Linked DNA regions of Homo sapiens: all the other regions are linked to region 3. The links come from fine-mapping of genetic effects on gene expression. A gene starts in region 3. Each other region holds a variant in brackets. All regions are shown on one strand. Distances are from middle to middle.

Evidence for each region. PIP is the estimated chance that this variant, and not a neighbour inherited with it, causes the effect.
Region 1: its variant is fine-mapped to the expression of PKD2L1 in whole blood (TOPMed, PIP above 0.99). The same link has a PIP of 0.9 or more in blood mononuclear cells and monocytes.
Region 2: its variant is fine-mapped to the expression of PKD2L1 in macrophages (Nedelec 2016, PIP 0.95).

Annotation. Positions count from the first base shown.
Region 1 is chr10:100,289,602-100,294,601 of GRCh38, reverse strand. PKD2L1 (polycystin 2 like 1, transient receptor potential cation channel) reads left to right here. Exons shown (of 16, transcript NM_016112.3): 9 at 1-67; 10 at 1,223-1,321; 11 at 1,533-1,654; 12 at 3,175-3,301; 13 at 4,083-4,201; 14 at 4,464-4,587. Among named protein-coding and RNA genes, the nearest start is that of BLOC1S2, 5.4 kb to the right of the region's middle. The variant A/T (reference allele first, on the strand shown) is at 3,068.
Region 2 is chr10:99,393,923-99,401,601 of GRCh38, reverse strand. It overlaps GOT1 (glutamic-oxaloacetic transaminase 1), which reads left to right. Exons shown (of 9, transcript NM_002079.3): 9 at 3,916-4,732. The coding sequence ends at 4,055. It overlaps CNNM1 (cyclin and CBS domain divalent metal cation transport mediator 1), which reads right to left. Exons shown (of 11, transcript NM_020348.3): 11 at 7,272-7,679. Among named protein-coding and RNA genes, the nearest start is that of GOT1, 33 kb to the left of the region's middle. The variant C/T (reference allele first, on the strand shown) is at 4,199.
Region 3 is chr10:100,328,202-100,335,588 of GRCh38, reverse strand. PKD2L1 (polycystin 2 like 1, transient receptor potential cation channel) reads left to right here and starts at 5,361. Exons shown (of 16, transcript NM_016112.3): 1 at 5,361-5,720; 2 at 6,265-6,378. The coding sequence starts at 5,486.

The sequences.
Region 1 (5,000 bases), 40 kb after region 3:
TGCCAACCGCATCCTGGGCCCTGCCTACTTTGTCACCTATGTCTTCTTCGTCTTCTTCGTGCTCCTGGTGAGGGTCTCTCTGAGGGGTGGGGACATAGAGAGCCTGCAGGGTGGAGTTTTGGTCCTAGTATGTCCCTCACTCAGGATTGATAAGTTTCTCAAATCAAGGATGGAGAGTGAGTGGGGGGGCCGATGTCTGGATCTTCTGAGAGATGGTTAATGTAGTACAGCCAGCATGGTCAGTTTGCAGGTTTGCAGAGTATAAGGGAACCTGCAGACTCCCTCAGTAAAATCAAACCCTCATTCTCCAAGGATGGAAATGGGGAGAAAAGTGCCTTATGAGGAGCAGTAGCTGCACCTGGAAGCGTCTACGACCGTCCTCCAAGACTCCCCTTCCTCTGGGGATCTCATGCTGATTTCTACTGCCACTACTTGGTAGTTCTCTCTCCCTGCCAACCATGAAAAATCTGGGTTATTATTTATTTATTTTAGACAGGGTCTCACTCTGTCACCCAGGCTGGAGTGCAGTGGTGCAATCTCAGCTCACTGCAACCTCCACCTCCCGAGCTCAAACTATCCTCCCACTTTAGCTTCCTGAGTAGATAGGACCACTGGTATGGTCAGGAGCCACCACACCCCGCTAATTTTTGTATCTTTTGTAGAGACAGTGTTTTGCTATGTTGCCCAGGCTGGTCTCTAACTCCTGGACTCAAGCAATCTGCCTGCCTTGGCCTCCCAAAGTGCTGGATTACAGGTGTAGGCCAGTGTGCCCAGCTCTTGGATTTTATTTTTACTAACAAGGCCAGCAATTTTCTTTATTTGATCAATGGATGGGGATACAGATATGGATTGGGGGGTAGATGAAAAAGAGATCACAATTGTACTCTCACCCTGAAAAGCCTCTAGTTCCAATGATTGATGGGCCCTTATACAAAGGAGGTCTGTGGCATATGTTATTGTATCTCTGTGGTCAGAAAGGTTACTACAGCAACTGAGAGTGAGGACACCAGGTTGGTCAAGAAGCATGATCCATCTCTAACAGAACTGTGCTGAAAGGCTGGGCTCTGGGGACCCTGAGAGGCAGGGATTGATGGGCTGCCGAACTGGGGTTGAGAGCACTGACCCCTTTGGAACACGTGTCTTGGACATTAATGGGGTCAGTGGGCTCAATCCTTTCAGTGGGTCTGGGGGTGAGGACCCAGGTCCCCACTTCATTTTCCAGAACATGTTCCTGGCCATCATCAATGACACATATTCAGAGGTCAAGGAGGAGCTGGCTGGACAGAAGGATGAGCTGCAACTTTCTGACCTCCTGAAACAGGTGATTGCTCAATCTCCTTGAGCTACACATTTCCATCAGTGCCCCAGTCTAAGGCTCTGTGTCCTGGTCTGTTCCTGACTGATTGAGGTGCCTGTGCCCTTGTGTGCCTTTAAATTTATCCTTGGAAGCCTGGCATACTATGGGTGGGGCTGGGGGCCAGGGATGAGTGAGCAGCCTGTGAGAACTTGTGCCTATTTCCTTTCCCTTTCAGGGCTACAACAAGACCCTACTAAGACTGCGTCTGAGGAAGGAGAGGGTTTCGGATGTGCAGAAGGTCCTGCAGGGTGGGGAGCAGGAGATCCAGTTTGAGGATTTCACCAACACCTTAAGGGAGTGAGCAACCAGAGACCCAGCCTTCTCTAATAACAGTCTCTTAAGTCCTCAACCCTCAACCATACTTCATTTGCTTATAAGCCTTTGGTTTTAGTTTAGGGGCCTCTGATCTTGACTTGCAGGCTTCAGATCTTTGCCCGTAGGTCTCCGCTCCTGACCTTCAGAACTGTGCCCTTGGTTTAAAAATCTCTGACCGTGGTTTATAACATCCTGGATCTTGTTGAACAACTCTTAGGAAACAATGTAATAATTCCCTAATCATTGAATACACACCCCACTCCCACAAAACTCTGATTTTTGTTCTATGCTTCCCCACAAACACTCATCTATTCCTTTAGCCATTCACTCCCTGATTCCCAGTCAAACATATTAATACACATTGAACAAATACATTGTGAGCACCAGCTGCAGATCAGGCACTGAGTAATAGACAACATAATTTTTTTTTTTTTTTTGAGACAAAGTCCTGCTCTGTTGCCCAGGCTGGAGTGCAGTTGCACAATCTCGGCTCACTGCAACCTCAGCTTCCCCGGGGTCAAGCAATTCTCATGCCTCAGCCTCCTGAGTAGCTGGGACTACAGTCATGTGCCACCACGCCCGGCTAATTTTTGTATTTTTGGTAGAGATGGGATTTTGCCATGTTGGCCAGGCTGGTCTCAAACTCCTGGCCTCAAGTGATCCACCCACCTCAGCCTCCCAAAGTGCTGGGATTAGGAGACAACGTAATTAAATGGGACAAAGTCTTTGTTTTCTAAGAGCTCATAGACTTGCAAATAAACTGAATCACAGAATAAGTTCAACAGAAGTGACTAGGAGTAGAGGGTGATCAATTCTATCTCTGAGCTTAAGGGAAGGCTTCCTGGAAGAGGTAATGTCTAAATAGGATATTGGAGGATGAATAGCTCACAAGTGGACAAGCAGAGGAAGGCTCTTCCAAGAAGAGATGAAAGCACATACAAAAGCATAGAGGTCTGAAACCAAGCAACATACACAGGAGGAATAAGTAGTTGAGCATTGCTAAGTATTAAATAAAGGGGCGGGGACAGGTGGTGGTCATAGCAGGAGATGAGACCAGAGAAACAGGCAAGGACCACACTGAGAAAGGCCACACTACCACTCTGCCAAAAGAATAGGGTGCCAGAAGGGATTTCAAGAAGGCACATTTTTAGATCTGCATATTAGAAAGGTTAATTACTCTAGTTGTATTATGGAGGATGGATTTCAGGGGTAGGGAGTAAAGGGGAAGCTGGGGGATAGCAGGTTATTTAGAGGCAAACAGATTTTGCAATAATCCCTGTAGGAGGTCATGAGGCCCTGAACCTGGTGAGCAGGAGTCAGGAGAGGAAGAAGAAACTGAACTGAACTGAGTGTTTTCCTGGGGGTAAGATTGCTAGACTTTGGAGAACCTTCTTT[A/T]CCAGAAGCAAAACTTTTGCCAGAGTCAAGCAAAAGAGTGAGGAAGTCCATAACTGAGAGGTCACAGCCACAGCTGGGCAGAAATCATTTCATCATCCTCTTCTCAGACTGGGACACGCAGAGCATGAAATCACTGAGCTCACGGCCACCTTCACCAAGTTTGACAGAGATGGGAATCGTATTCTGGATGAGAAGGAACAGGAAAAAATGCGACAGGACCTGGAGGAAGAGAGGGTGAGCTGGGCTGATGGGTGGAGAGGCAGTGTAAGGAAATAGCTCACCCTCTCCTTCCCCCAACATACCTAGAACACAAACCCACCTGAAAACTCTCCCATAGATAGTAAAGAACTCTCTAGAATAGTAGTTCCCAAACTGCTGCACATTAGAATACCCTGGGGGGCCTTTAAAAATCTTCATACTCAGGACACACACTCTAGACCAATTAAACCAGAATCTCTGGGTGTGGGGCCTAGACATCAGTACTTTTTATAACTCCTTAGGTGATTCCAATACATAGCCAAGGTTGAGAATCATGCTCTAAAACACAGGCTTAGGGAAAAATGACCAACTGCCCAAGAATCACTGATAATTCCCTCAGAGGACTTGCCTTCTCTTGGGAATTTTCAGACTTGGATTCTTGGCTGTCCCTACTGTGCCTGCTCCATCCCTATCCAGTGTGGACCAAAAAAAGTCAAAGGCAGGGTGACAGCAGCCTAGAAAGTGCCAAGAACACTGGTAGTGTCCCTCCTCTGCTAAAATGAGTTGGCCTCTAGTAAATACCTCATCCATCAAGCCTTCTAGGATCTTGTGTTTTCTTTGAGAGGTGACTCCTCCAGAGGTTGGTCCAGCACCACCACCCTGACCCTATTGTCTCCAGAGTCTGGGAGGGAAGGGGAATAGCAAGAACTAGGACCTGAGCCTTGGTCCTGAGATCCCAGTAGAGTAGGTGATAGAACAGGAGCTGATGGCTTCCCAGAGTTATCTCCTCCCCTCTAACCTCTGACTTCCTGAGCAGGTGGCCCTCAACACTGAGATTGAGAAACTAGGCCGATCTATTGTGAGCAGCCCACAAGGCAAATCGGGTCCAGAGGCTGCCAGAGCAGGAGGCTGGGTTTCAGGAGAAGAATTCTACATGTACGTGCAGCCAAGAAAGGCTGGTTCAGGGCTGGCAACACTTCTATTACGATACCCTGTCTTGTACTTTTCCCACAACTTTCCAATTCTCTGTCCTACCCCAGGGAGAACCTCCGCTCCCCTTTAATTCTGCCTACAAGGCTGGGTCTTCCCTTCCTTGTTCCATTCAGGACACATGCCCTTCTGTGAACCCTGGCTCTTTAGACATCCAGCCCCCAGACACAGATTTCTGCTCCATTCGTCTCTCTCAAATCCCACACAGGCTCACAAGGAGAGTTCTGCAGCTGGAGACTGTCCTGGAAGGAGTAGTGTCCCAGATTGATGCTGTAGGCTCAAAGCTGAAAATGCTGGAGAGGAAGGGGTGGCTGGCTCCCTCCCCAGGCGTGGTGAGTGGCCCTTCACCTGGTCCTCCTAGTTCCTCACAGCTGAACTCTGCCATCTTTTCCACTCAGTGGGTGGGGCAAGAACATTTTTGAAAGACCTATGTTTTCAGGCTCCTGGGGAAACATGTTCATAGCGGTTAGTGTATCAGCAGAGATGGGTCATGGAGATAAGGCCTGGAAGTTGCTTGCCCTGGCCTAAGGGCTGCCTTGGCCACATGAGATGGTCTGTGTCAGTCTGTTTGGGCTGATATAATAAATTATCATAGACTGGGTGGCTTATAAGCAACACAAATTTGTTCCTCACAGTTTGGGAGGCTGGGAAGTCTAAGATCAAGGTGCCAGTAGATTCAGTATCTGTTGAGGGCCCACTTCCTGATTCATAGAGAGCTGTCTTCTTGCTGTGCCCTTTCATGGTG
Region 2 (7,679 bases), 930 kb after region 3:
TCCGCCTCCCGGCTTCAGGTTATTCTCCTGCCTCAGCCTCCCGAGTAGCTGAGATTACAGGCGTCATTTCTTTAGTAATTCCCACAGTGCAGATGTGGCGACTCACCTGTGTGTCCCAGTGACTCTAGGGAGGGATGTGTGGCTGGCTTGGTTTGTAGGCAGAACGGCAGAGGCCGTGGGGAGGTATTTAACTGGGGCCATCACAGTGCCAGTGTGAAGTGGGCTCAGAAAAATCCAAAGGAAATAAATATAAATGGCAGTTAATAGAGCTTGTATTGTGGACCCCTCAAAATACTTTGGGGTAAAATGAAGCTACCTAAGAAAGTAAAGAAATAGCTCAGTTAGCTGTAGATGTCCTCTTGACTGAGGAACAGAGAATTAGTTCACTCACAATTATAAAAATATTACATGTAACAGAAATATTAATAGTCTTTAGTAGTAATAGTCTAAAAGCTCACAATATGGGAATGTCTCCCTGTAAAATATCCATATCTTCCCATTATCCACAGGAGGAAATTAGTTTTATTAATATCACGAATTGGAAAAATGATGAGAATAGAACTGTGCTTATAACACAAAAGTTATATTTTTAGCGCTTGGCATCATTTGCCCTTATTAAAAACAGGGGTTTTGTTTTCCTCCCAACTTTTTTTTTCTTTTTGAGACAGAGTCTTGCTCTGTTGCTCAGGCTGGAGTGCAGTGGCACAATCTTGGCTCACTGCAACCTCCACCTCCTGGATTCAAGCGATTCTCCTGCCTCAGCCTCTCAAGTAGCTGGGACTACAGGCATGAGCCACCACACCCAGCTAATTTTTGTATTTTTAGTAGAGACAGGGTTTCACCATGTTGACCAGGCTGGTCTCAAACTCCTGACCTTAAGTGATCTACCTGCCTTGGCCTCCCACAGTGCTGGGATTACAGGCGTGAGCCACTGTGCCTGGCCTTTTTTGTTTGTTTGTTTGTTTCAGACACGGTCTCGCTCTGTCACCCAGGGTGGAGTACAGCGGTGCAATCTCGGGCCACTGCAACTTCTGCCCCCTGGGCTCAGGTGATCATTCCACCTCAGTGTCCAAGTGGCTGGGACCACAGGCGTGAACCACCATGCCCGGCTAATTTTTTGTAGAAACGGGGTCTCACCATATTGCTCAGGCTGGTCTCAAACTCCTGAGCTCAAGTGATCTGCCCGCCTCGGTCTCCCAAGGTGCTGGGATTACAGGCATGAGCCACTGCACCTGGCCAGAAAAGTTTTAAACATACAGAAAAGTTGGAGGAATTGTACAGTGAACCCCTATATATCCGCCACCTAGTTTCTACAATTCTCACATTACAATACTTCCTTTGTTATCTTTTTTCTGTCAGAATGGGGCTTTTAACCTGGAATCCCTGGATGTACGTTTAGGAGAACTGTGAAGCCCCTGAAATGATGTTTAAAAAATTGTATATGTGTATTTTGGCCCTGCTCTAGGGAAAGAGTCCATAACTTTTACTAGCTTTTCAAACTGTGACACTTCCCTTCTCTGAAAAAGTAGAAAGGCCTCATTTTTACTAAAACAAAACCAAAAGCCAGGGTAGGAGTCATTTAATCACTGCCTCAGGGCACAGGCTTTTAGAAAGAGTGGCACACCCAGGGCTGTGTTGGCTTGAGGCTCTATCCCCTTGGGTGACCAATTCACACAGGTAAACCTCTTCTTAAGCTTGCTTTCTTTGTTCACTGGTTTGGAGGGGTCAAGGGAAAACTTACCCTTTGCCCTCTGAAAGTTTGCTGGAAATCAGCTGACAAGAGGCAGATTAATAGGAGAAAAGGCATACAAATTTATTTATTTATTTTTGAGTCAGAGTCTCACTCTGTTGCCCAGGCTGGAGTGCGGCGTCACAATCATGGCTTACTGTAGCCTCAACCTCCCAGGCCCAAGCAATCCACCCACCTCAGCCTTCGTAGTACCTGGGACCACAGGTGTGTGCCACCATGCCCGGCTAATTTTTAAGATTTTTTTGTAGAGACAGGGTCTCCTTATGATGCCCAGGCTGGTCGTCAACTCCTGGGCTCAAGCAATCCTCCCTCCTCAGCCTCCCAAAGTACTTGGATTACAGGCATGAGCCACTGTGCCTGGCCAGCATGCAAATTTATTAACTTGCACAGGTGTCTTACAAAATAGAACTCAAATAAATGGCCAGATGATTGATGCTTTTATACCATCTTGGGGTTATAGAAAGAATGGGAGCTTGGAGCTTGCCAGAACAGATTATGGCAGGCAGAGAAGAGAAGGCCTGGTTAGCAAAGGTGGTCTTGTTATATTATGTAGATAAGACAGGTAGCAGCCCTCGGAGAAAATAGCGGTAAAGGTCTATTTCTTTTAGACCTTTAAAGGCATCACACTCTCAGTTAATCTCCCCTAGATCTGGACAAGGGAGGGCCTCAGAGAAAGCCTAGCTGCAGCCATGCAGATTTTCTCTACAGATACAGATCTCTCCCACAAAAGACAGCTTTGCAGGGCTACTTCTGTATGTAGGCCCTCTCAACAGCCATCTCAAAATATGTCAAAGTATATTTTGGGGTGAACTATTTTGGTTTCCTTCAAGGAGCACTGAGTCCAGGGTCCAGATTTTTCACTTCCTTAGAGAGGCACTGTAGCATCACGGGGGCAGTGTACAGCCCAGACTTGAAATCCTGCCTGAAAATCCCACATCCACCATTGACCAGCTGTGCAATCTCGGAAGGCCATTTAATGTCTTTATGGCCTATCTGTAAAATGGGCATGATAAAGTTATTATCAGGATGAACTAAGATGCAGTGCTTAGAACACTGCCTGGCACATAGTGTTTACTCCTCTGATTATGATGATTCTATTATTATTCCATTTCCTCAGGTTGGTGGTATCTTAAAGGTACTAATTACTTAAGCAATAATTCACTAAAATTCTTTTTTTTTTTGAGACAGAGTCTCACTCTGTCACCCAGGCTGGAGTGCAGTGGTGTGATCTCGGCTCACTGCAACTTCCTCCTCTTGGGTTTCAAGCAATTCTCCTGCCTCAGCCTCCTGAGTAGCTGGGACCATAGGCACATGCCACCACGCCTGGCTAATTTTTGTATTTTTAGTAGAGACTGGGTCTCAGCATGTTGGCCAGGCTGGTCTCAAACTTCTGACCTCAGGTAATCCACCAGCCTCAGCCTCCTGAAGTGCTGGGATCACAGGCGTGAACCACTGTGCCCAGCCAAATTCACTAAAATTCTATCAATGGATTTGCCAAATAGCAAAACTGCTTTAGAGACTGCTGTATAAAGGAAGTACAGGTAGTCTCTTCTTACCCACATGTGATGCATTTCTGAAAACATGGAAAAACTACTGCATCTGAGAGAAAGCTGAGAAATGAACAGAAGTCTGATGGTGCCAGGTCAGAGAGGTCTGTGTCATTTCTCAGCTCATTGGTTAATTCACACAGGATTGATCAGGTACCTCATGCATGGGGCCTTACCCAATGTATTGTAAAAATGAAATGTCAAAGGGAGGCTGCCGCGGGTACTCAATGCAAGTCCAGGTTAGGGAAGAACTAAAGGAAGCACTTCATAGCCAGCATTTCATATCGCTGTCCGTCTGATGGTTGTTTTTAGGTGATAGGGGTGTCCTGGTGGATATAATGTATAAGGCTTGGTTGGAAGGCAATCTCAGATTAAAATTCCCATCAGTAGTAGCCATATTGAATTTTCTGGGGATTCAAAGGTGAACTAGTAAGAGTACTTTCCAGAATCTAGTGAGCATATTTTTCTGTTTGTCAGTTGGACAAAATAGCGCCTTTTGTTTTGCTTCTCTCTGTTAAGGGGAAAGAAGTAAAGCTGTAATTGTCATATAATTGCTGAGCCTCCACTGCTTTAAGGATCCCCTCTGCTCTGATTATGTCTTCTTTTGGTTTTCAACAGCCAAGCAGGTTGAGTATCTGGTCAATGAAAAGCACATCTACCTGCTGCCAAGTGGTCGAATCAACGTGAGTGGCTTAACCACCAAAAATCTAGATTACGTGGCCACCTCCATCCATGAAGCAGTCACCAAAATCCAGTGAAGAAACACCACCCGTCCAGTACCACCAAAGTAGTTCTCTGTCATGTGTGTTCCCTGCCTGCACAAACCTACATGTACATACCATGGATTAGAGACACTTGCAGGACTGAAAGGCTGCTCTGGTGAGGCAGCCTCTGTTTAAAC[C/T]GGCCCCACATGAAGAGAACATCCCTTGAGACGAATTTGGAGACTGGGATTAGAGCCTTTGGAGGTCAAAGCAAATTAAGATTTTTATTTAAGAATAAAAGAGTACTTTGATCATGAGACATAGGTATCTTGTCCCTCTCACTAAAAAGGAGTGTTGTGTGTGGCGGCCACGTGCTTCTATGTGGTGTTTGACTCTGTACAAATTCTAGTCCCAAAGATCAAGTTGTCTGAAGGAGCCAAAGTGTGAATGTGGGTGTCGGCTGCGGCATTAAATTCATCATCTCAACCCAGAGTGTCTGGTCTCCCTGCTCTTTCTGCATGGTTGTGTCCCTAGTCCTAAGCTTTGGTTCTTTAGGGTGACTGTGGTAAGAAGGATATTTAATCATGACATGCACGGACACGTACATATTTAACTGAAACAAGTTTTACCAAACAGTATTTACTCGTGATGTGCGTAGTGCATTCTGATATTTTTGAGCCATTCTATTGTGTTCTACTTCACCTAAAAAAATAAAATAAAAATGTTGATCAAGACATGGAGTTGATTTTATGACCACTAATGGGTTGTGACCCACAGTTTAAAATGAATGCTTTAGAGGGTTTTACTAGTGGCTAAAGGAAAAACTACAATGTGTTCTTACAGTATAGCTTCCTTCAGTGAACTCACCATATAACTCCCTGGTGATTTTGCGGGCTTGTCATTTGGAGGCCAGCTGTCTTATGTTACTTAAGAAACTGGACTTCTTGGACTGTGAGAGGAGATGACATCACTCAGGTTGATTATAGAACATCAGCCCGTTCCCTGCTGTCAGAGTCCCTCCTGGTTTATTGAAACAGAACCACAAAAACATACATCACAATTTCCAGAGTCCAAGGGCCGCTCCAAATGGCCATTTTGTAGAATTTGGTGGGGTTTGATGTTACTTAACACAAGAGGTCTATTAATTGGAGTTTTTAAGTATTTAAAGTTAATTCTTGTGATTTTAATAGGATCTGCCACTTTCTAGGACTCATTTGGGTTGTTAGAAAATCCTGCAGTCCTGAGGGATGACTGGGGCCTCAGAAGTCATCAAGTCCTGCCTCTCCGCCAGTGAAATAGTCTCTCCATATTGTCTCTGACTCATCCATTTCAACTGGTGGGGTGGTAGTGGTGATGGATTCTTTAAATACCTGGTGAGGCATCCCCTTCTGCTGGTGGGGCCTCTTAATTAAAAAAAAAGAGGCTCATTTACCTTTTGCTCACGGTAAAAGTTCATCTACCTTGAACCAGAATTTGATCTTTGTTCCACTCCCCTGCCCCTCCTTTCCTTCCTTTAAACCACAGATAGTAAATCTACTGGCACTTCTAATCTACCACCTTTCAAATATTTGAAAGTAGCAGTTGTCATTCCTTGTTTACACTTTTCCACATGAACTGCCTCTCCCCCACCACTTTTGTTTCTGCACAGGATGTGGTTTCCAGATCCTTCCCTGTCTGGCTGGAGCCCCAGGAGTTCTTCAGAGGACACTCACTCTGCCAGTGTGTGGTTGGGCTGGTGGAAGTTCATGAGTGAATGTGATTAGATGCCCTCCCACCCATCTCTTCACAGCTTTCTGAACATATCAGTCTTTGTTCTCCTCCCAATGTAAAGATGCTTGTTGTTAGTAAGGGAAGGCAGCCAACAGAGAAGTCGAATGATTCTACCTTCTGTCAATCTGCCATTCTCTCCAAACGCTTTCAACCACTCATTCTCCATGGGGACGATACTGCCTCCATGGGGACGAAAATTGGCTCTCTGGGGCAAAAAAAAAAAAAGCCTGAAATACTAAAATGTTGCCTTCCAAAGTGCAATCCTACCTGACCATCTTATTAGTATTTAATTTCTCTTGTTAGGGAAAATTAAAATTTTCTCTTTAGGGGGCTGCCAAAACCATTAAAGATAAACACATCTTTAAATCTAAGTGACAGTACCAAAGTGCTCAAATGTTTTTAGCCTTGAAAAAAGCCCATCTCAATGGGAATCTGGCCTTCTTCTATTCCGACAGATATGTTGGTTGGTGTGGTTCCCACTGCGTTCACCTGAAAAAGGGCTGTGAGTTTGGGAAGCCGGCAGGACTCCTCAGGCCTCTGACATGCCAGTGAACTTCAGAGGTGGGATTGTTTCACCAATTTTGCTCACTCAAGAGCAGGGCACTCCAACCTCCAGGCTCTGCCAGTTCCCAGGTGTGTAACCGTGAGCAAGAAGACAGTAACCTTGCAGACAGTAACCCCTCCTCCACAGGGTGGTTGAGAAAGAAATGAGCTAATGGGTACTTAACAGAATACTTGGAACATAAAGCCCTTGGCAAAATAGTTGTTTCCATTATTTATTATTACCGTTAGTGAAATGAATAGCCTCTACTGAGGTTCCTGAGAAGAATCTTAAGAGGTTTTGGCATAGGCCCCTGATCCTCCTGTTTGCTTTGAGAAATGAGTAGTAGGTGTCAGATTTCAGCCTTCCTTCCACACAGGTATTATATGCCCAAACACATCTTCCCACCTGCCTGGCTGTTCCCTCCCTCCAGCATCGGCTTAAAACTGACCAACAGGCCTGGCCCATTCTTGTGTTCCGTTCCCTAGCCTTTGGTTGCAAACTGCCAGAGTCATGCCACTTGGACTCCTTTCTGAAGGTTCTGCAGAAGCGAGCTAGTGTGACCAACATTCTGTCTCAGGGGCTTGTCTGGGTTTAGCCCCCAAGACCCTGAATTTGGACGGCACCCAGCACAGCACCTCACCCATCACATGGGTTCAGCAAATGCCAGCCCTTCTCACTGTCGTCTTAGTTCCTTCCTCGTCTTTATGCATACTGGCTTCTCATTTGGGTTTTACTTCTCATTTCTGGCATTCACTCCTGCAAAATCTTACCATCTGGCCTCCCAAAGTAGTGTGCCAAGGCTTCCCCGTGACCTCACCGCAGCCTCACACCTGGCCCGGAGCGGCATGCCTCTTCAGGCAGGTGGTGCACAGGTGAGATCATCACACGTGGGCATCACTCAACCTGCATCTCAAATGAAGCCACGTCAGAAGATTCCAGGGGCAAGGAAAACAGCCACATTCCAGGAAAGGCATTTTCATTTTATTTAAAAATTATTTACAATTTATTAAGCCTTCATAAATGCTTTATTTTAAAATCTTTTTTTTAAACTTTTTTTTTAACCTGAAGAAAATCTTTGTGGGGTGGGGGTATATAGGGAGGGGAGTGGTGACAGGCTCCATAGGGATTTTGCAAAGGGATGGGTGTAATGCAACAGCAGTGGCTTGAGCCTGGTGGCCTCAGGTGATGAAGACCAGCCAGGCAGGCACCCCGGGGCCAGTGGTCAGCTGGGCAAGAAGCCTGCATGATGGTAGTTCTTGTTCAAAACTCACCATTTATTGGTTTGGGTCTAAGTACCCAACATTGAGGGCTGACACTTCGCCTGTTCCTACCAGGCAAGAGCAGGTGTTGGGACTGGATGACTGTGA
Region 3 (7,387 bases):
GAACTAAATTTGTTTTGTGCTTCAAAGTACACAGTTTATAAAGACTTCTATATTCTATTATCTAAATCCTAAAACAGTCCTTAAAGTCAGCAGGGCAGGCATTGCTATCAACACTTTGGAGATTTGCAGATAGGTAAACTGAGTCTCAAAAGCGACTTGTTCAGAACCATATACTAGTAAGTTGCTGAGCCCTGCTAAACCCAGGGACTTTATTCACATTTTTTTGTTTGTTTGAGACAGAGTCTTGCTCTGTTGCCCAGGCTGGAGTGCAGTGGCGTGATCTTGGCTCACTGCAACCTCCACTTCCCAGGTACAAGTGATTCTCCTGCCTCAGCCTCCCGAGTAGCTGGAATTATAGGCACATGCCACCATGCCCGGCTAATTTTTGTATTTTTAGTAGAGACAGTGTTTCACCATGTTGGCCAGGCTGGTCTCGAACTCCTGACTTCAGGTGATCTGCCCGCCTCAGTCTCCCAAAGTGTTGGGATTACAGGCATTAGCCACCACGCCCGGCTGACACTGCTTTGTCGATGGCATCGACAAGAGGAAAAGTCAAGTGCCAGTAGGAGCTTGGGGACATGGAGAAAGGTACTGGACACAAGATAATCAGGAGATGCCACTTGATTACCACAGTTGCAATTTCTTGAGCAAGTTTAAACATCATAAGGATGCAGAGAACTTTTTGAGAACATTTCTCAAGCCGTGTTGCATAAGCTGTGCTCCTGGGGCCAATACGGGTTGATCCACACACATGGGGAATGCTTAACCCTAAGCAGGAGAAAGCAATCGGATTTTGCCCAGGTAGGTGACCAAAGGTGAATAAAGCAGTCCACTGGTGGCCTTGAACAATCAGAGATGTGAGACTTGTCACATGATGACCCTCCTTTAGCACAGTCAAACCCCTGCTGATCACAAGCCTCCTCCAGAATCCAAAATTACCCAATGGGAACCATATACCATCTCCTGTTGCTTTTCCTGCTTCTCTGGACCATACTGTTAGCTTCCTGCTCATCAACCCTATCCTAAGGTCCAGTTATGCAAGGCAGGGGTCTTTTTGCAATTATTTAAAAGGCTTGTAGGTGAGAGGTAGTGGCTCCCTTTTCCTTTGTCATCAGCTTATCTAACATAAGGTGGTTGATTCTGGTACAGTTCTTCCTCCTTTTTCTTTTTTTTTTCTGGAGAGTTTCCAAATTTATTGCTTATCAATGGACTCATCTTGGAAATTGAGCTGTAAAACACCAGGATAGAGGATAGTCTTGGTTGCCAAATCTGTTCCCCCACCAGGGCAGTGTTGTATACTTCCAAAACTTTCTAGGTCTCCTCCAAATGACTCAAGGGATGGGAATTTCACCACCTCTCATGGGAGGTTGTTTTATAGCCTCTTACATCTTACCCATGATGAAAGTTCTGATGAAACATTTTTTTCCCCTTTGGTTCATTCATTACCCTTAGATAATCCCCTAAAGAGCACCTTCACAATCCCTCTCCTTCTTTGGGGCTTATGCCTTCAACTATCTGCACATGGCTGTCAGGACCCCATCCCACACACATGCATCTGCACATGGCTGTCAGGACCCCATCCCACACACATGCACCTGCACTCCTTAGCTCTTCAGCCAGGCCTACCCACATACAGTTCTTTTCATCTTTCCTCATACATCAAAACCTCAAGTGAATTGGAAGCGGGATTATGGCTCTCTTCTCAAGATTTTCTCACGTCAGCTGCATCCCTTCTCCTCAACCACATGCCAGGTTTGTGTATGCCAATAGCCATTCACCAATGGAAATGAGGTTTTTCTGGAATGCTGTGTTCTATAGTTAAAAAAAAAAAAGATTCCTCCTACCCATAGCTTATATCTAGGTTGGATCAATATTTATACAAACTATAATAAGGAGGAAAAATCTAAAAGAAGTCTGGGACTACCTTAAATCTCCAACCCCCCAAGAAACATTTAAACTACAAATAAAAATCTCAAAATAATATATTTCCCTTAAACATAGGCTATGAATTAATAAAATAAATTCAATCACCTTTTGGTAAAGGAAGCATGAAAAGATTGACTACTCATTTCTTTATGGATGAAAAATTAGCATGGATGAGTGCCCCAAATGAAAAAGAACCCTTCCTTTTCTTCTTATTTTGTCATTTCCTTCCCACTGACTTGGTCAGAAGCCACCTCCTTTTGTTCTTCAACCACTCTGAATAGCTGGTAGTTTCCATGGTCTCTGAAGGGATTCACGCACACCACAGTTCTCGGCGGCAATAGGGACCACCAGAGGTCCTCACCCTCGTTATGCAACCTCAGGCCTTCCCCCTCCTCTGTTTTCTCCCAACTGCACTAAGGGCCAGTCTTCTACAACCCTAGGGGCATCACAGACATCTTCAGAGCCCCAAGACCCCACCTATCATTCCTATGCTTAGAAGGAACCTCTTCTTTTCCAAACCTTCCCATCCAAACCTGATGGGGCTCTTCCTTCCCAAACCTCGCCCATCCATCAAGATCTAGCTTCTGTTTCATTTCCTCCAGAGGAAGCTTCCTTTTCCCCTAAACTTCATAATGTTTAGTGTCTATACCATTAAAATAGGCTACCTCACATTATTCATGCCTCCATTTGCTGCTGCTGCTTTTTTTTTTTTTTTTTTTTGAAACAAGCTCTTTCTCTGTCACCAAGGCTGGAGTGCAATGGCATGAACACGGCTCACTGCAGCCCTGACCTCCCGGGCTCAAGCAATCCTCCTGCCTCAGCCTCCTGTGTATTTGGGATCACAGACATGCATTACCATGCCCAGCTAATTTTTTGATTTTTTTGTAGAGACAGGGTCTCACTTTGTTGCCCAGGCTGGTCTTGAACTCCTAGTCTCAAGCTCGGCCTCCCAAAGTGCTGATGTTAGCCACTGTGCCTGGCCCATTTGCTCCATTTTTTAAAGTTTTATTTTATTTTTAATTGATAAATAATAATTCTATATACTTATGAGGTACAATGTGACATTTTGATACATGTATACATTGTGGAGTGATCAAATCAGGTGAATTAGCATATTCATTACTTCAAATATTTATCATTTCTTTGTAGTAAGAACTTTTTAAATCCTCTCTGTTAGCTATTTTGAAGTACACAGTACCTCATTATCAACTGTAGTCACCACACTGTGCAACAGAACAACAGAACATATTTCTCTTGCCTGATTGAAAGCTTTTATCCATCGACCACTCTCTTCCCCTCTCACACACCCCTCACCCCCAGCCTCTGGTAACCACCATTCTACTCTCTACTTCTACGAGTTCAATTTTTTTAGTTTCCACATATAAGTGAGAGCATAGGGCATCTGTCTCATTATGCCTGGCTTATTTCACTTAACATAATGTTCTCTAGGTTTATCTATGTTGTCGTAAATGACAGAATTTTCTGTGTTTTTTTTTTCAAGGCTGAATATATTATATTGTGCATATATACCACATCTTTTAAATCCTTTCGTCAGTTGATGGATACTTAGATTGTTTCCATATCTTGGCTATTATTAATAATCCTGCAATGAACATGGGAGAGGAGACATCTATTCAACACACTGATTTCAATTCCTTTGAGATTCTTGGAACATATGGTAATTCTATTTTTAGTTTTTTGAGGAACCTCCATACTGTTTTCCAAGATGTCCGTACTAATTTACAATACAGCCAAGCATACAAGGGGCCCCTTTTCTCCACAGCCTTGCCAACACTTGTTATCTTTCTTTCTTTCTTTTTTCTTGAGACAGGGTCTTGCTCTGTTGCTCAGGCTGGAGTGCAGTGGTGTGATTTCAGCTGACTGCAGCCTCAACGCCTCAGCCTCCCCAGCTCAAGTGGTTCTCCCACCCCAGCCACCTGAGTAGCAGCTGGGACTACATGCACGCACCCCATGCCTGGCTAATTTTTGTTGTTTTGTTGTTGTTTTGTAGAGGCGGTGTTTCACCATGTTGCCCGGGCTGGTCTTGAACTCCTGAGCTCAAGTGATCCTCCTGCCCTGGCCTCCCAAAGTGCTGGAATTACAGGTGTGGGCAACCACACCCAGCCAAGATCTCTTTATAGGGACACTCAAGACTGATTATTTTGACAAGGCTGATGTTTTGCTGAATGTGAAGGTGGGCTTCAGGCCAGTGAGTAGCCCTGGGTGGGGAGCCAGGAGTTAGGAGAGGAAAGTCTCTGCTCTAGCCTCAAGGAGGAGAAACTGCAGGGTGACCACCACAACCTGTGGGATCAGCCCCATTCTGGGGCATCATGCATGCCTATAGGGGAGCTGGAGCAGGTGATCAGAAGCTGGAGCAGGGCATAGGCAGGGATGTGCTTGGGGGCCCATGACACAGTTTTAATTCAGAGACCTGCAGTTATAAAGAAAGCAGATTAATCCTGATATCATGGATAGTTCCACTTTGTGCTCAAGTTTACGATTCTAGGCCCAGGACTAAGCAGAGCCATGGGAAAAGGTTCCCAGCTCAGCTGGGTCCAGATATCCACTCCCCTTTAGTCCCACATCATACTGTCCTTGTCCTTTGTTCTCCGATCCAGCCTCCCAACCAGGTCTTAGCCTTTTTCCCATACTGAGCCCCACACCCTTAAGGAACCCCCTCTCTTGGTGTATCTCACCTGTAAGCCATGGAAAGGCAAGCTTCAGAACAAGGAATATAGACAACCTAGGACTCTGTGGTCCTCTCCCCTGCCCCCTCAGTGCCCTGAAGTATGTGAGACTGGGGTTCCTCCTGCCACTGTCCTTTCCCCACGGCTGAGAGGGTGAAGTGAGGGAAGGGAGCTGCCCATCTCTGCTCCACCAGGGGACAGCTGAAGGTGAGACAGGACAGGAGCCTCAGACCCATTGACTGAACCTGGGAGGTGGGCAGAGCCTGGGAGGGGGACAGCGCTCTTCAGCTTTCCTCCCAGCCTTGGTCCCCACCCCAATCCATGTCGGCCCTTTTAGGAGCTTTTAGTGGAAATGAGCTCAGACCCGCAGCACAGGCCCCCGGCTCCCCTCCTGTCTCAGCTCCTCCCATTGCTCTTTGATCGTCTCTTCTGTCCGACCTCTGGGCCATCTCTCCACCAGGCACATCTGCGAGCAGCCCCCTTCATCCCCAGCATCGCCTTTTCCTCCCGTTTCTCCTTCCACTCCCAGCTCCACATCCTCCTCCTATTCTCCCCTCTCCCCTCTTCAAACCCCCACCTTCCAGTTCCCTCACCTCCCCTTTCGGCTGGTCCCCTGGGGCTTGCAGCAAGAGGGAGAGAGAGCTCCTGACAGGATTGATGGTCCTTCCCCACCCTGTCCTCTCATCCGCTCCCTCCCCAGCAGGCACAGACATCCCCCTACAAAAGGCAGGAGCCCAGGCTGTGTGGAAACAGCTGCTCTCAGACGCCTTTCCATTTGCTCTCTGCTGGCTAGGCTGGGCTGTGCCTCTGCTCCCTCTTCCTCTAGCTGAGAGTGGGCACCTGGGGTACCGGGCCCCCCCACCTCATTCCCCATGAATGCTGTGGGAAGTCCTGAGGGGCAGGAGCTGCAAAAGCTGGGGAGTGGAGCCTGGGACAACCCCGCCTACAGTGGTCCCCCTTCCCCACACGGGACGCTGAGAGTCTGCACCATCTCCAGCACGGGGCCTCTCCAGCCCCAACCCAAGAAGCCTGAAGATGAACCCCAGGAGACGGCATACAGGACCCAGGTGTCCAGCTGCTGCCTCCATATCTGTCAAGGCATCAGAGGTACCAGATAGGGGGACAGTTCTCCTGGGATATTAGAATCAGGAGGAGTCACCAAAAGCTTTTGGGCAGGGGGTGGGGGTGGAATGTGATCTGAAGAAGAGGTGACCTTTCGGTGTCACTTTGGGGTGTATGAATTGCCCATGGTAGTGCTGCATGACCCAGAACACAGAGGCCAGCTGAGCGGTCTACCGGTTGTGGGAGCCTGGCATGGTCATCACCTGGGGATCCAGAGAGGTATGTGGGAGCTGGTTTGAGGGAGGACATGGATGTGATGATGCCCTAGACTACCCCACCTGGAACAGGTGCCTCCTTTCCATGCCTTCATTCTCTACAAGCCAGGGCCTTCACCCCTGTCGACCTCAGGGAGCTGATGGGAAGAGCAAGCATGGGTGTGGGTACAGTAGCCAGATTCAGCCAAGGATGAAGGTGATGGGCAAGGAAGGGCAGGGGTGGAAAGGGGCTAAAGTCCAGAGACAGATGGGTGGGGATGACTGGGAGGAACACTGCCACTGAGCATCCCAGGCATCTCTCCCATGCCCCTTAGGACTTTGGGGAACAACCCTGACTGAGAACACAGCTGAGAACCGGGAACTTTATATCAAGACCACCCTGAGGGAGCTGTTGGTATATATTGTGTTCCTGGTGGACATCTGTCTACGTGAGTAGCATCTGTGTTTGTGTACATCTGTCTGTGAGAAACATCTATGTGTGCACTATATGTATAAACATTCCTGTGGGCAACATCTGTGGAGCGAGCATCTATCTGTGTAAGCAGGCTATATCCGGGAACTTTAGATAACAATATTCCAATCCCATCTATTTACCTTTGCAGCTTAAGATATTTTGTTTAAAAGGAATTTGTCAGTAGAGGAAGGCAGTTTGGTCAAGAATTACAAGGGGAAACCAGTTTTTGGCAGCCATTGTTTTCTATTGGCTGAAAAGGTGAAAGGTGAAAATATTTTACCCTTCTGTAGAGAGTGGGCTGGCACGGTGGCTCACGCCTGTAATCCCAGCACTTTGGGAGGCCGAAGTGGGCACATCACCTGAGGTCAGGAGTTTTGAGACCAGCTTGGCCAACATGGCGAAACCCTGTCTCTACTAAAAATACAAAAATTAGCTGGGTGGCAGGTGCCTGTAATCCCAGCTACTCAGGAGGCTGAGGCAGGAGAATCGCTTAAACCCAGGAGCAGAGGTTGCAGTGAGCCAAGATCGTGCCACTACACTCCAGCCTGGGGGACAGAGCAAGACTCTGTCTCTCTGTCTCCAAAAAAAAAAAAGAGTGGAAAACCACTCCCTTCTGTTTGGAAAGATAGTTTGGTGGGCTTCACGTAGTTATTATACTATATCCGATGCATGTTTCTTTAGAGGCAGAGAAAAAGATGGAAGAAAAAAGAGAGGAAGTAAAAGATCCAGGCGACCTTAGATCTCAGATCCCTGTTAAGAGAGGGAGGGAAACACATGGTATGGTGATGGTCCCATGTGAGAGACCACCATGTCACATGCCATTGGAGGAAGCTTATTGAGGCTCTAGCTATAGACACAAACTGAGAAATTTTGATCTCTAAGTTGAGAGAAGCAAGTGAAAAGATAGGAGGGCGACTGTGGGAAGATAGAGTCAAAGAACCGTAAATAATAATAAAATTGGACCAAACAGATGCTATTAGACT